Linked DNA regions of Homo sapiens: region 2 is linked to region 1. The links come from fine-mapping of genetic effects on gene expression. Tissue or cell type: whole blood. Region 1 holds a variant in brackets; the other region holds the start of a gene. All regions are shown on one strand. Distances are from middle to middle.

Region 1 (2,766 bases):
AAGTTATACACACATGTGCTAACATGGAAAGATGTATAAAATATATCAAGCAAGTTGCAAAAAATTTGCATATGTCTGTGTATGTATGATCACTTTTGGAAAGAATCAGATAATAGTTACTTCTGAGGAGTAAAGATAGAGAGGAGTTTGAATTTTTATCTATGAGTGCCCATTATTTTAATAGTAATTTTTAAAATGTTAATAAACCTTTATAACCAGGAAGAAAACTATACAAAACAAGTTATTTCTGGCAAAGTCAGAAACAAATTTCTAAAGCATACAATGACCTAGTAACTTTTTTTGTTTTAATTTCAACTTTTATTTTAGATTCAAGGGGTACATGTGCAGGTTTGTTATCTGGGTATATTGTGTGATGCAAAGGTCCGGAGTACGAATGATCCCGTCACTCAGGTACTAAGCATAGTACCGAATAGTTAGTTTTTCAACCCTTCCTCCCTCAATCTCTCCCACCTCTAGTAATCCCCACTCTCTACTGTTGCCATCTTTATGTCCATGAGTACCCAATGTTTAGCTTCCACTTATGAGAACATGTGGTATCTGGTTTTCTGTTCCTGCATTAATTCACTTAGAATAATGGCCTCCAGCTGCATCCATGTTGTCGCAAAGAATATGATTTCATTCTTTATTATGGCTGTGCTAAAAACTTTTTAACTCTGTGAGACACTCATGCCTCTGAGAATTTTGCAGGTTTTTTTGGTCCTCAGGCTTTGAAGAAACATCATTTGCCAACCAAATGAAACATACACTAAGCCCTCTATTTTGGACTATATTTAAAATATCATGGCATTCATTACTAGTTTTAATTAAAATGAGATTTTAAAGTCTATAGATATACAAAAACACAAGCTCATATTCAAATAATTTTCCTTCTACATATTTTAGTAATTGTGGACTGGACTAGCTTGTGAGTTCCATGAGGACAGGGTGCATTTGTGACGCAATATATGTTGTGTACCCCTGAATTGTAGCAAGTACCTCATAAAAAGCAAGCTCTCAATTTTTTATATAAATGAATACATGAATGCATTAAAGTCAAGTCAGATCCTTTATGTGTTTATTTCCAGGCACATAAGGATTTGGTTTTTAAACATACTGTAATACCTTGAGAAATTCACTTAAACTCTATTTGCCTCACAGCTCATCTTTTAAAATAAGAAAGCTAGATTAGATGTTATCTTACGGTACTTTCTAGATTTTACAACTCTATGGTTTTCTCACTTTATGGTATTACAACATAGGCATCCAAGTCAGGACAGATCTCCATTTGATTCTCAGCTTTTCACTCAGACTAGGTGAGCCATTTAATTTCTGTGTCTCCATTTCCTTATATATGAGGATAAGCTGCTTCTTCTGAGGACTGAGATATAATTTTCATAAAGCATAGAGCTGTAACAAATTTTAGTTCTCTTCATAGTCAGGGCAATAAGAGCAAAGTTACAGTAAAAACGACTATTCATGTTAAATGATGAATACATTAGTATTTTGTAACTCATAATTATTTATATTAAATGTAGATGCACCC[A/G]CTTCTGACAAAGCTGATTAAAAAGAACTTTAGGAGAAAGTGGTCCTTTTTCAGTCTCCTTCATGCTGTGAAGAAACAGGAACAAGGCTGAGGTCAGTGGTCCAGGCCTTGAAAGTTCCACCACCAATGGGTCCTTTAAAAACATGATCAACTCTATGTCAGAAATGTACAATTTAAAAATAACATATTAAAAATCTGTGAGTTACACTCTGCTTAAATAACACCAACTAAATTGCCTCAATTGTATTAAGAAACTTTATTATTTCATAAATAAAATATATAAAAATGGAAAACAGAATACCTGCCTTGAAAAACACAGGTATTTTCATATCCTCTGCCCTTTGCTTAATAAAACTATTAGATCAAATGATATCACCAATCTTTAGTTGCTTGTCACTGTCCTTTAATGCACTCTCCTATAAATAAAATCACTAATCTACTTAATGTTTGTACCACTCCACGAATAATCATACATTATTTGCTAGTAAATAATGTATGATTATTTGTGTATAATGTAGGATTATACACCTTTCTTTTCCCCAAATATTTTACTAGTAAAGTAATAATGTGGAATCATGTAACAAAATCAGCATAACATCTCCCTCTTTTAAAGGGGAGAGACATAAAGCTTGACAAAAGCAGCTAACATTGGGTGAAGGATTAACCCATTTAATTCTAGAATTTTTTTCCCCTCGAAATCTGGTTTCTAAAGTACTATCCCCACCAATAACACTTTCTCCTAAAGGACAAGGAATAGAAAGCAGATCCCAAATATAAACTTGGGACATTAAAGAATGTTATCTTCCGGCCGGGCGCGGTGGCTCACGCCTGTAATCCCAGCACTTTGGGAGGCCGAGGCGGGTGGATCATGAGGTCAGGAGATCGAGACCATCCTGGCTAACAAGGTGAAACCCTGTCTCTACTAAAAATACAAAAAATTAGCCAGGCGCGGTGGCGGGCGCCTGTAGTCCCAGCTACTCGGGAGGCTGAGGCAGGAGAATGGCGTGAACCCGGGAAGTGGAGCTTGCAGTGAGCCGAGATTGCGCCACTGCAGTCCGCAGTCCGGCCTGGGCGACAGAGCGAGACTCCGTCTCAAAAAAAAAAAAAAAAAAAGAATGTTATCTTCCAAGATAACTATTGAATATATTGTCCTATTCCTATATTCATGAAATAACTGTTACATATGTATTTTATAACAACTATCCTTAAAAATCCACTATAAT
Region 2 (2,500 bases), 33 kb after region 1:
ATTATTCAGGTGATGGTTACACTAAAAGCCCAGTACCACTAGGAAATATATCCTCGTAAAAAAACGGCACTTATATCCCTTACCTTTATACAAATTTACAAAACTGTGGCTGAGGATCTCCGTGATCTCCCCCACATTTAGAGCTTTGATAGGATGCACGGGACTCAACATATAGTTGAATTCATGGCTGACATTTATTACACAATGCAGTATGGATATAAAGGCTCATCATAATAGAAAAAGACACAAGCGGAGTCTGGAGGAATCACGTGTAGGCTCCTTATGCGGTCTCCCTCCCAAGAGGGGTCAAACAAAACACATCCTTCCTCCATCAGTGAAAATGCAGCAGTTTCCGCGCAGGGAAGCCCATTAAAGACTTGGTGTCCCGGATTTTTACAGAAGCTGGTAATTTCGGCATAAAACATACTGTTCAGCACAAACCCAAAAATCTAAGTTCCCAGATGCCAAACAAGCACCAACATTGCAAGCAGTCCTTTCTAAGGATAGCAGTCTTAAGGCCTGCTATGTTAACTCTTTTTAGCACAAATATGTTCTGGCCATTTTTCTCATGCGGTTTTCCAAACAATAAACTTTACAGTTTTCAAGTCACCATCACTTAACACTTGTCTTTTCTCTAAAGTAGGATGTGCAACTAAGTTGTTTAGAAAGCTTTGTTTTTAAACAGGCTATGCAAAAAGCCCATATCCTTAAGAAAAAAAAATCCTTTTTTCCTACTCTTGGGCAATTATTTATGGGGGTTGGAAAGAGAAGAAAAGGTCACTATCTCCTTTTATATACCAAGCTCAAAAAGATGAGCAGCACTTATGGTTTTGCTGTGTATCACGCTCAGTTCTAAGCACTTCACAAATATTAACCCACGCAACCCTCACAACCACCTTAGGAGATAAGTTGCTATTATTTTCCGCATTTTACACTTGAAACTGAGAAAGAGAAGTGAAGTGACTTGCAGAGGTCCCAAAGCCAGTAAGCGGTGGATGGAGATGCGGACCCAAGCAGTCCGGCCCCGGAGCTCCTAATACACGACGCTTCCAGAAAAGTCATTAGACAGGCTTCCTCCGGTCACCAACACACACACACCCCGAGGATGTGAAGAGAAATGCGCCGCGATGAGGCGGACGGAAAGGTGTGGGGCCGCCGCGCGCCCAGGTCACCAGGGGACTCGGGCCCCTCCCAGGCCAGCCCCGACGCCCAGGGCTTCTCCCGCAGCCGCATGGACCCGGAGCCGGCAGAGCGGCGCTCACACGGCCCTCGGTGACCGCCCGGCGCCCCCAGGGATCAGGAAGCCGAGTGGGGTGGGGAGCCTCTCTTCCAGCCTCGCCCACCCACAAGGGGGTCAAGGTCGCCGAAGCGAAGACCGAGAAACTGCGGCGACCATACCGCCGCTGCGACCAAAGCGCCGCGTTCTCAACTCACCCCGCCGGGCCGGGCCGCAGCGTCTACAACCTGGGGAGACTGCGCCTGCGCGCTCGTCCCGCTCCCGGCAGAGGTGGGGCCTCGTTCGCCCGCCCCCAGCCAGGACCGGGAGGGTTCCAGGCGGCGCGCCCGGGGCCCGGGAGCGCGGGGAGGGGTGAAAGGGCGGGGCCGGCTTGCGTGGCGCCTGCGTTCTGCGTGTCCGCAGAGCCCGGAGAGTCCCTGATAATCTAAGACTCATAGCCACCGACTAGCAATTTGTTAGGATCCTGGGCCAGCGTGCGCACCTCGGATGTTGCAGGAGTCCGGCTTAAGTCCCACTTGTTGCTGGGCACCTTCTGAAACAGCCTCCGATTTCCCTCCGTTACCCTCCTCTGAACTCTTTTTTTTTTTTTTTTTTTTTTGAGACGGAGTCTCGCTCTGTCGCCCAGGCTGCAGTGCAATGGCAAGATCTCGGCTCACTGCAACCTCCGCCTACCGGGTTCACGCCATTCTACTGCCTTAGCCTCCCGAGTAGCTGGGACTACAGGCGCCCGCCATCACGCCCGGCTAATTTTTTGTATTTTGTTTAGTAGAGACGGGGTTTCACCGTGTTAGCCAGGATGGTCTCGATCTCCTGACCTTGTGATCCGCCCGCCCCGGCCTCCCAAAGTGCTGGGATCACAGGCTTGAGCCACCGCGCCCGGCTCCGCCCCCACACCCCCGCCGCCCCCTGAACTCTTAAAGTCACATCTAACATTCGTCATATATTATTGTGGTTTTTCCCCCATTGCTGTTGTCTTACCTATCCTTCTCTCTTCCTAGCTAGATAGTACATTTCTTGAAATACACCTATACCTCCTCAAAGCCCGGTTATCTGTTGAAGTGGCCAGCACATTGCATGTTTAGTAAAAGTAGTTGGTTTGAAAATATTTTGTTTCAATCATGGATATTGCAAATGCCAACACTGGTTATGGATAGGTTCTAAAAGTCTCCTGATCTTTCACAACTCTTCAGCCAAGGGACAAATGTGGCTTTAAGGATAAGAGCATTGGCGTAGAAATCAGAAGATACGAGAGTTAAAATTGCA

The links. PIP is the estimated chance that this variant, and not a neighbour inherited with it, causes the effect.
Region 2: it holds the start of USP45, and the variant in region 1 is fine-mapped to the expression of USP45 in whole blood (TOPMed, PIP above 0.99).

The regions. Positions count from the first base shown.
Region 1 is chr6:99,481,208-99,483,973 of GRCh38, forward strand. USP45 (ubiquitin specific peptidase 45) reads right to left here. Exons shown (of 18, transcript NM_001346022.3): 8 at 1,546-1,676. Among named protein-coding and RNA genes, the nearest start is that of USP45, 33 kb to the right of the region's middle. The variant A/G (reference allele first, on the strand shown) is at 1,544.
Region 2 is chr6:99,513,958-99,516,457 of GRCh38, forward strand. USP45 (ubiquitin specific peptidase 45) reads right to left here and starts at 1,466. Exons shown (of 18, transcript NM_001346022.3): 1 at 1,435-1,466. RefSeq lists enhancers at 474-1,381, 1,382-2,287 and silencers at 1,204-1,303, 1,354-1,723, 2,034-2,253.